3 linked regions of the Homo sapiens genome follow. The protein of the gene in region 2 interacts with the protein of the main gene of each other region in a pairwise test. Each region holds a gene or a part of one and is shown on either strand. Other genes may lie near its edges. The genes, in order: STX8, SGPL1 and MARCHF5.

The links.
Region 1: the proteins of SGPL1 (region 2) and STX8 interact in binary tests that used the Homo sapiens proteins (3 or more experiments, as listed by UniProt).
Region 3: the proteins of SGPL1 (region 2) and MARCHF5 interact in binary tests that used the Homo sapiens proteins (3 or more experiments, as listed by UniProt).

The regions. Positions count from the first base shown.
Region 1 is NC_000017.11:9,544,816-9,548,468, forward strand, and holds part of STX8 (syntaxin-8), read right to left. Parts: intron 468-3,653; coding exon 357-467; intron 1-356. UniProt on the Homo sapiens protein: Vesicle trafficking protein that functions in the early secretory pathway, possibly by mediating retrograde transport from cis-Golgi membranes to the ER.
Region 2 is NC_000010.11:70,818,807-70,822,459, forward strand, and holds part of SGPL1 (sphingosine-1-phosphate lyase 1), read left to right. Parts: intron 1-3,653. UniProt on the Homo sapiens protein: Cleaves phosphorylated sphingoid bases (PSBs), such as sphingosine-1-phosphate, into fatty aldehydes and phosphoethanolamine. Elevates stress-induced ceramide production and apoptosis.
Region 3 is NC_000010.11:92,346,558-92,350,210, reverse strand, and holds part of MARCHF5 (E3 ubiquitin-protein ligase MARCHF5), read right to left. Parts: intron 863-3,653; coding exon 679-862; intron 541-678; coding exon 374-540; intron 1-373. UniProt on the Homo sapiens protein: Mitochondrial E3 ubiquitin-protein ligase that plays a crucial role in the control of mitochondrial morphology by acting as a positive regulator of mitochondrial fission and as an important regulator of immune response.

The sequences.
Region 1 (3,653 bases), on a different chromosome or scaffold from region 2:
CCCCATCTCTACTAAAAATACAAAAAATTAGTCGGGCACGGTGGCGGTGGGCGCCTGTAATCCCAACTACTTGGGAGGCTGAGGCAGTAGAATGGTGGAAACCTGGGAGGTGGAGCTTGCAGAGAGCCAAGATCACGCCACTGCACTCCAGCCTGGGTGACAGAGCGAGACTCTGTCTCAAACAAACAAACAAAAATTAACGAAAACTAAATTGAGTAGAAAATTATAGTCAAACACCATAAATGAATAGAATAGATTTTGATTAATTCCTAAAGTAAGCCATTCAGGAAACAGCTGTAGTATCTGCAAAGAAGTCTTCGCCCACCAAGTAATCCCTGTAAATAAAAACATCCTACCTGATTAGATCTGGTTCGGCACCCTCATTCTTAAAGGATGCCAGAAGTAGTCTCTCTCGAGTTACAAGATCATCCAAGAGGTTCTGTCTTCGGTCCCCTTCAAGCTGTGTTCTGCAGATATCTTGTTAAGGTTCAATGGTGAATAAATGACCTCGTTTTAACTATTACATTATTAAGTTAGCTCTTCAAGTCAGTTGTGGCTTTTACAGACTGTAATCACTACTACCCAGAAGGGATGCGCACCACTCTTGCGTTTTTCCTGCTCTGACCTTCACCTTCACCAGGCCGTCAGGTAAAGGACCTTGGCAGGACCATCGCAGAGGCACTTATAAACACTGACGTGGATCATGACACAAGTTTTTCATTGAGAAATATACCAGGTAAATATTACTTTCCTCCCCGTGACCAAACTTATTTACTTATTTTTGAGACAGAGTCTCGCTCTGTCGCCCAGGCTGGAGTGCAATGGCGCGATCTCGGCCCACTGCAACCTCTGCCTCCCGGGTTCAAGCAGTTCTCCTGCCTCAGCCTCCCGAGTAGCTGGGCTTACAGACGTGCACCACCACAACCGGCTAAGTTTTGTATTTTTATTAGAGACGGGTTTTTGCCATGCTGGCCAGGCTGGTCTCGAACTCATGACCTCAGGTGATCTGCCTGCCTTGGCCTCCCAAAGTGCTGGAATTACAAGGCGTGAGTCACCACGCCCAGCCCCAGTGACCAAATTTAAATGACTTCTCCTGCCAATGGTGCAACCTGGCTCAGTGATTCCTTAGGTTTTGAGTTATATGTGTGTGTCAGTGTTCCAGGGCATTTTCCTACATATTAATACCCTAAGATGCTCTGTTTAAAAAAGTGGGGGCGCTGGGGGAGAGAAGTTCTCTATATTGCTCTCTTTCTTCCATGTTAATATCTATTAACACACCTAGGATATTTATAAAGTGCTACTTTATGCAACAGATTTGCTCTATAAATTGTTACCATCAGTTCACTATTTAAATACATTGCATGATTTGTAAAGAAAATTACAAAGAGAATCATTTTAATGTGTGAATCTAGCAAACACGCTAGACTAGGAGCCCCAGAGGCAGAGTTGTAGCCCTATTCCACTATCTATGCTCTTGAACCAGTTATTTCACCTTTTGGGATCTCTCTTTCTTTATATGTAACACTAAATAGTCTCTAACATCTTTTCCACAACAATTCATAAGTGATGGTTAAAAAAAAAAAACCAAACAACCATCCTTCTGGGAAATGTAGTCTTTGGAAAGAAACCTACAATTCACCAATAGGTGGACGAGAATGCGGCGCGTGCGCATGAAGCAAAAAGGGAAGTGGCGTCTGTCAACAACCGGCGCCACTTCCCTTGGACTAAGTACAAAGTTTTATATACTAGCTTTCTTGATGCAAACTACAAAAGTGGTTTTTTTTTTTTTTTTTTTTTTTTGGAGACGGAGCCTTGTTCTGTCTACAGGCTGGAGTGCAGTGGCGCGATCTCGGCTCACTGCAACCTCCGCCACCCGGGTTCAAGCGATTCTCCTGCCTCAGCCTCCTGAGTAGCTGGGACTACAGGCACGTGCCACCACGCGCAGCTAATTTTTTGTATTTTTGGTAGAGACAGGTTTTCACCATGTTGGCCAGGATGGTCTCGATCTCTTGACCTCATGATCCGTTCACCTCAGCCTCCCAAAGTGCTGGGATTACAGGTGTGAGCCAGTGCGCCCAGACACAAGTTTTTGTTTGTTTGTTTTTAGGCTGAACTGTGTCTATGTGTGTGGTATGTTAAGAAACACAGAAGGGCTGGACGCGGTGGCTCAACGCCTGTAATCCCAGCACTCTGGGAGGCTGAAGTGGGCGGATCACAAGGTCAAGAGATGGAAACCATCCTGGCAAACACGGTAAAACCCCGTCTCTACTAAAAATATAAAAACTAGCCAGGCGTGGTGGCGTGCGCCTGTAGTCCCAGCTACTCGGGAGGCTGAGGCAGGAAAATCGCTTGAACCCGGGAGGCGGAGGTTGCAGTGAGCCGAGATCGCGCCACTGCGCTCCAGCCTGGTGAAAGAGCGAGACTCTGTCTCAAAAAAAAAAAAAAAAAAAAGAAAAAAGAAACACAGTAAAGGATATGTTTGGAAACAACTTCTGCCATAAAATGAATGAGTGGAGAAAGCTAACAAACACTTTTAAAATATATCTGGCCAGGTGTGGTGGCTTACGCCTGTAATCCCAGCAGGTCAAGGCAGGTGGATCACGAGGTCAGGAGTTCGAGACCAGCCTGACCAATATGGTGAAACCCCATCTCTACTAAAAACACAAAAATTAGCTGGGCATGGTGGCGCACAATCGCAGCTACGCAGGAGGCTGAGGCAGGAGAATCACTTGAACCCGGGAGGCGGAGGTTGCAGTGAGCCGAGACTGTGCCACTGCACTCCAGCCTGGGTGACAGAGCAAGACTCCGTCTCAAAAAAAAAAAAGAAAAAAGAAAAGAAAAGAAAAGAAATACACACTAAAACAAGATACCACTTCCACCTATCAGATTAGGAAACTGAGAAGACAGTTTTGGAAAGGGACAAGGAACCAGACACTCTCATACATTCTTTCCTTTTCTTTTCTTTTCTTTTTTTTTTTTTTGTTTTGTTTTGTTAAGATGGAGTCTTGCTCTATCATCCCAGGCTGAAATGCAGTGTTGCAACCTTGGCTCACTGCAACCTCCACTACCTGGGTTCAAGCAATTCTCCTCTCAGCTCCCCAAGTAGCAGGGATTACAGGTGTCCACCACCACACCCAGCTAATTTTTGTGGGTTTTTTTGAGAGACAGGATTTCACCATGTTGGCCAGGCTGGTCTCAAACTCCTAATCTAAAGTGACCCTCCTGCCTCCCAAAGTGCTGGGATTACAAGCATGAGCCACTTCACCTGACCTTATACATTCTTTCTTTATTATTATTATTATTTTTTGAGACAGTGTCTCCCTCTGTCGCCCAGCCTGGAGTGCAGTGGCATGATCTTGGCTCACTGCAACCTCCAGCTCCAGAGTTTAAGCAATTCTCCTGCCTCAGCCTCCCAAGTAGCTGGGATTACATGCACATGCCACCATGCCCAGCTAATTTTTGTGTTTTCAGTAGAGATGGGGTTTCACCATGTTGTCCAGGCTGGTCTCGAACTCCTGACCTCAAGTGATCCACCCACCTCGGCCTCCCAAAGTGCTGGGATTACAGGCATGAGCCACCATACCCGGCCACCTCATACATTCTTGATAGGAATGCAAACAGGTTCAACCAACTGCTAGACTGCCTTCTAAATA
Region 2 (3,653 bases):
TTATATAACTTAAAATTCTTATTCAAAGACCATTATGTTAGAAATACTGGAAACTATAAGTAAGCAAAAGGAAAGGGGATTTGTTAATCTCCCCTATCTCCTACATCCCCTTCATTCGCCTCTACCCCGTGCAGTAATTTATCACCCAGAAATAACCGCTGTGAGCATCTTGGATGGTTAATGCAGAGTGACTTGTAGCAATTGACAGTTTCTGTTTATCCTCTTACAGAAGGATATGTTTATGTAAATTATAGGTTCTTATATGTAAGATATTTCCCCATGCACAGAGATATGGTTATTACTTATAGGGCCTATGCATTTACTTTAACAGAACAATGACTGCTTTTACTCGGAATATTAACTTTGGAATCAGTTTTCTTTTGAGGTATTTCTCTAGCTGTTGCCACCACCTTTCACCTCCTCACCTGTTAATTTAGAATGTTTAGGAGTGTTGCTTTGCTTGTTGCTGTAAGGAATTAATCCACATAGATGCGAGTGGCCCTAGGCAGTCATCACTTTCTGAAGACAACATACATGTTGCATGAAGTGCTTTCACTGGAAAAGTTGTCATTCATTCCTTGACTGTAATGTATAATGCTATTTGGAACTAACTGGTAAAGAACCAATAACCATGGCTGGGTTTTCAGTGGCACACTAACCCATCATTCTATGAGGTGTTTCTCAAGCTACTTTATATGATATGTAAAACATGTTCTTGGCCCTCCACCTGGGAAGAAAGGACCTAAGTGAATAAAAAAATAACCTCAGTGCAGTGCAGCATCTCAGAATTAGAAATAGTCTTAGAAGTCATGGGATGCAGCTTTTTTTTTTTTTTTTTTTTTGAGACAAGGTCTCACTCTGATGCCCAGGCTGGAGTGCAGTGGCATGATCTCAGCTTACTGCATCCTCAATCTCTGAGGCTCAGATGATCCTTCCACCTCAGCCTCCTGAGTAGCTGGGACGACAGGCACATGCCACCATGCCCGGCTGATTTTTGTATTTATTTTTTGTAGAGATGGTAGTTTGCCATGTTACCCAGGCTGGTATCTAACTCCTGGGCTCAAGGGATCCAACCGCCTGCCTTGGCCTCCCAAAGTGCTGGATTACAGGCATGAGCCACTGTACCTGGCCTGTGATGCAGCTTATATTATACATGAATCTGTTGAAGAGTATCTCTGGTAAATGGATATCCAGTCTCCCGTCTTTTCTGCTAATGGAATAAGTGAGCAAAAGCTAGGAAACAATACAAGGTGGATTCAGGAATAGTAATGTTAACTCTGATAGCTAACATTTATTGAGCATGTATTACATGTTAAGTGTAGGAATACTGTACTTATTTAATTTTCACAAAAACCTTTTGGTATCCTTCTTTTACAGATGAAAAACGAGGCTTATAGAGAGTAACTACAGCAGTTGAGTGGTGGAGCCAAGTTTGACCTCAGTTGGTCTGACTTCAGATCCCTCCCTCTTGCCTACTTTGTGTCCTTACCCCTGGTAAGGGTAGAGGTTGCTGACCATTGTGACTGATGGGAGAGGGTCTGTGTGGAGCAGATGGGATAGGATAGCTCCACCCTCTAGGGGGCACTTTGGCAATGGGGGACTGGGGGAGGAGGGAGTCTTTTTTCTTCTAGTGTAGTCTGAAAATACATGTTTTATTATTAAATTATTATTAAATCTTGTTTATTGGGTCAGGCGTGGTGGCTCATGCCTGTAATTCCAGCACTTTGGGAGGCTCAGGCGGGCAGAGTACTTGAGGCCAGGTGTTCTAGACCAGCCTGGTCAACATGGCGAAACTCTGTCTCTACTAAAAATACAAAAATTAGCTGGGCATGGTGGCGTACACTTGTATTCCCGGCTATTTAGGAGGCTGAGGCAAGAGAGTTGCTTGAACCCGGGAGGTGGAGGTTGCAGTGAGCTGAAGCTGCACCATTACACTCCAGCCTGGGCGACAGAGCGAGACTGTCTCAAAAAAAAAAAAATTTGTGTTTTATTTTCTTTTACGTCGCATTTAATGAATTATATTGAAATTTTAAAACTTGTATCTGCAGGCATAGTGTTATAATCTTTAAATGCCATGTCAGAGTAGCAAAAGGGATTACAGAATATTTGTTATAAAAAGAGGGCATTGGGTCATAGAGTTGAAGACTACTTGTGTGGACAGTATGCTGTGAGAGAAAACCTGGAGATGACCTGGAGTCCACATATAACAAGCCTTGAATCCAGACTGACAGGCTCGGGCTATCAGCCCTCAGTGTGTTCCTGCCCTCAATTTTGTTATCATTTGATTAGGATAGTTTGCTTGCCTTTTTCCATTTGCTCGTATGTGATGTGTCATAGACTGCAGTACTTTCCACCTGTGTCTCATAGAGAATAAAATGAGTATGTTCATCTGCTGAGAGTTGTGATGATGTCAGAGGGAATTCAAGTCAGACAGCTTTGTAGCAGCCTTTCTCCCCCTTGGCAACCATTCTTTTTATTCATACTCTCCTCCTTGGTGCTAGAGGGTGGTATCACTTTGCAAGTTGCCAAATATTTGTAGTTTTTAAGAAAAAGGTATTTTATAAAGCCAGTCTACCCCTTAGGTGGCTTTTTTCTTTTCTCATCAGAAAATGATGACTAAATTAGCTGATATTCATAGATGAATCAAGGTTAGCGTGTGCACCCTGGTAGTGCTAGGTGGGGTTTGAGTGATAATTGCTTATCTAGGGCAGTGGTTCTTGACCAGGGGCAATTTTGCCCTCTGGGTGACATTTGACAATGCCTAGAGACATTTTGGGTTGTTACACCTGAAGGGTTCTGCTGGCATCTAGTGGGTAGAGGCTAGGGATGCAACCAAACACCTTACAACGCACAGTTTCCTGCAAACAAGAATTATCTGGCCTAGAATGTCAATAGTGGTGAGGTTGAGAAACTGGTATGAAGTTTCTTACCATAGATACCTGGATATCTGTGTAGTCTATGCTTTCATATGGGTGGGGGAGTGATTCCCTTCTTGGAGGTTAACGTGTCTGTTATTGTCTCACTTGGGGTTATTTTGCCCATGGGTCAAGCCTTGCTGCTCAGGAATATATATTGGAGATGGTGCAGCTGATCTTTTATAGCAATGCAGAATTCTTAAGAAATGCTGTCCTTTGCAACATTTCTGCACCACTCTTTTCTTGATTTGCAAACAGCAAGCTTCCCTCAGTTTTGTTTTTTGGGTTCAAAAATTGAATCTTTCCAGGTCCTTGAGCGTCTTTATCTGTGACCCTTGACTCTTTTTCAGGGATGCTTTCTTTCTGAATCTCAAGTGGGATTTAAGCAATAAACTGAAAGATTGACCTTAGGAGCTCTGTTCTATTATTTGAGCCTTGTGTCTTGTTTGTAGGATTTGCTAGAAGAAAGGGAAAATTCATTGGGATTGTTGATAGGACATTAAAAAATTTGTTGACATTTGAGTGGCCATTGCAGGATGAACACTGTATTTGGCAATCTCCCAGTGTTATAGATGAAACAGAGCTGTAATAATTTCCACAGCCTTTGGTTTAAAGGAAAAGAGGGTTATAAACAGATAGAATCCAAATCCCAGTATTTGACTTAGCTTTTCAGTCTATGTGTCAGGAATTTTTAGTAATATTTACCTTCTTAATTAGGTTTTACCCAATCTAATATTA
Region 3 (3,653 bases), about 22 Mb from region 2:
CCATACTACAGGAACAAAAAGTCCAGACATTTGATTTAGATTTCACAGCAAGACAATTTCTGTGATGGGATTTGAACCAGGTGGTCTGATCGTAAAGTACTGTAATCCCACTGGCAAGAGGGACAGGTGTGATGATTCATGCATATGCCAGGAGAGAAAGCACCTACAACATAGTTCCAAAAGGCCAGAACTGCTGCAGTGGTTTCTCCTCTTTTTATTTCCACTCAAGCTATTGAATGATAGTGAGGCTCAAATAGAGGCTTAATGCATAGGAGCCACAGACCGAATATTTATACAGTTCCCCACCTTTTAAAAACAAATACACTTCATTCTCTTTTGCAAGGTAATATAAGTAATGTTAAAGCCGTCTTACCAAGATTGTCCTTTGTAAATTAGAGTTAACACTACTGAACATCAATTTACCAACTATTGTAGCAATAGTAGGAAAGACAAGGGCTCCACACAAGATTCGAGTAGCAGAGACATGATCTGCTAAAGGATTGGCCTCAGCTGGAATTCGAGGAACAGGACAACCTATCCCTAGAGGAAAAAAATGCAGTGCGTTAGTGCTAATAAATCAGAAGAGTTAGACTACCTTCAAACATGGCTAAAAAAGCATGTTATTGTTCTTCAAGATCAATTTGGTATGCACTTTACAACCACAGTTCAGTGCCTTACCTGGAAATATACTATTTAAAATTTGTAGTTTATTCGAGTATTTGCGCCACAGTCTAAGCACATAGTCCTCCCAGCGAATCATCTTGCCTAATATCAGCATGACAGGAATAGTAGGAAGTCCAATTAAAAGGAATAAAGGATCAGCTCTCTCCATAACATCCAGACCTTCTTTATGACCTACAACCTGTGAAACAGATAGCATATATTAGAATTACTTCTTTTTCAAATGAGGTGTTGCATGTTAAGCTCTATTTTTTTAATAGAAAATGCTTAATTTCAAAAGAATACACAGAAATAAAAAGTTTAAAAAATAAGCTGGAAAGCTATCAGTCCTGATTTATTTATAAGAAATGTCTCATTCAAGGGAAAAACAAAGTTCCCAAGCCATTTCATACCACACAGGAATAAAAATTAAAATGGCTGACCCAGACTGATTACATTACAATAGAGGGGCGGGGACCTCTGATTGTTGCTTCTATTCCTTTATTTGATTTGGTTAGACTGGGCTACGGAACTGGGATATAATTCTAAGTCCTATTTGTCTTCCAGCAAAACAACTGTTTTCCTGATCTTCCTTCTAGGAGATTAAGCATAGCCAGCCAAGAGGTAGGACCGGCCTTCAAGAGATGGCCTGAAAGCTCATTTCTCTTTGGCTCTTTCTCCTTACTTAGTGGTGTGTAAGATAGGGTGTGATGTCTCTGGCTGGCTAAGTGTCTACCCTACAGACCTAACCCTCCTTAAGTGCACTTCCAAGGTCTAGAATTGAGGGACTGTAGTAGGAGGTCCAGTTTTGGTTACAGATCCCAGGCATTTTTCCCAATTCAGGAACTCTAGGGTACCCTATCTATGGGGGTAATGAAGCTAATACAATCTTTTCCTTACCCTATCCTAGTCTTGGGGCTATTTCTAAATTGGTGTAGATCCCAGAAGGCGAGAAATACAAAATTGGCATTTGTGAACTTCTACCTTTTCCCTCTCTCCAAAATCCTTTTCACTTCCACATCAATCTTGGCCTTAAATTTACCTCTTTTTGTTGTTGTTTTTGAGATGGAGTCTCGCTGTGTTGCCCAGGCTGGAGTGCAGTGGTGTGATCTTGGCTCACTGCAACCTCCGGCTCCTGGATTCAAGCGATTCTTCTGCCTTAGCCTCCCGAGTAGCTGGGATTACAGGGGCATGCCACCATGCCCAGCTAATTTGTGTATTTTTAGTAGAGACGAGGTTTCATCATGTTGGCCAGGTTGGTCTCGAACTCCTGACCTCAGGTGATCAGCCTGCCTCGGCCTCTCAAAGTGCTGGGATTACAGGCGCGAGCCACCGTGCCTGGCCAAAAATTTTTTTTTTTTTTTTGAGACGGAATTTTTTGCTCTTGTTGCCCAGGCTGGAGTGCAATGGCACGATCTTGGCTCACTGCAACCTCTGCCTCCCAGGTTCAAGCAATTCTCCTGCCTCAGCCTTTCGAGTAGCTGGGATTACAGGTGTGCACCTCCACGCCCAGCTAATTTTTGTATTTTTAGTAGAGACGGGGTTTCTCCACATTGGTCAGGCTGATCTCGAACTCCTGACCTCAGGTGATCCACCCGCCTCGGCCTCCGACAGTGCTGGGATTACAGGCGTGAGCCACTGCGCCCGGCCCCAGAAATGTTTTATGAAAGTGTGTGGAGAGGACCAAATTTGAGCTATGGATATAGTCCAGATTTCCACTTGGTTAATTTATCTAATTAAGATGTAATATTAAAGGGCAGGAGGCTAGCCTCTTCCTAATGGTCAATAATGTCATCGAATTTGATATTCTTCTGTGTCTCCAGGTAGAACTTAACAACTTCCTATCTTGCATGTGGAAGGTGATCCTTTTGAGTTGCCCTAAAGTGAAATGGTCTGGTTTATGATATTTCATAAACCCCAATTCCATAATGGTAGCAAAAGTTAGCTGGCCATGACTGTTTTACCTATAATGATTTCCCAGGAAATTTCTTTATCTATCTATCTATCTATCTATCTATATATCTATCATCTATCTATCTATCTATCTATCTATCTATCTATCTATCTATCTATCTATCTATCTATCTGAGACGGAGTTTCAGTCTTGGCATGATCTTGGCTCACTGCAACCTCCACCTCCTGAGTTCAAGCTATTCTTCTGCCTCAACCTCCTGAGTAGATGGGATTACAGGCACATGGCACAACACCTGGCTACTTTTTTGTATTTTTAGTAGAAATGGGGTTTCACCACGTTAGCCAGGTTGGTCTCGAATTCCTGACCTCAGGTGATCCGCCTGCCTTGGCCCCCCAAAGTGCTGGGATTATAGGCGTGACCCACCACGCCCGGCCAGGAAATTCCTTTAAAGAAAAAAAAAGACAGGGTCTTGCTACGTTTCCCAGGTTGGCTTTGTACTCCTGGGCTCAAGCAATCTTCCCACCTCACCCTCCTGAGTAGCTGGAACTACAGATGAGTGCCACCACGTCTGGCTAAGAAATTCTATTTTTATATCATTAAAAATTTCAATATAATGATCACTCTAACATTATAACTAAATATGATTAAATATTCTCAAAGTGTTAGCAAATAAATTCAGAATATTTGAAAAAATCCTTTGTCGGGTTATGTGTCCTTTTTTTGGGTTTAGAAATATAAAGAAGAGTGAATATTCAGGTATAGACTAGAGCGAACAAGAGGAAGTTTGTTTCTCATGGGTAGCAGTAAAAACCTTATAAGGTGTTTAAGAATAAGGAAACAAAAAGGAAGTAGGGGTTGGGCACTGTGACTCACAATTGTAATCCTAGCACTTTGGGAGGCTGAGGCAGGCGGATCACCTGAGGTCAGGAGTTTGAGACCAGCCTGACCAACATGGTGGAACCCCGTTTCTATTAAAAATACAAGCCAGGCGTGGTGGTGGTCATCTGTAATCCCAACTACTCGGGAGGCTGAAGCAGGAGAATCGCTTGAACCCAAGAGGTGGAGGTTGCAGTGAGCC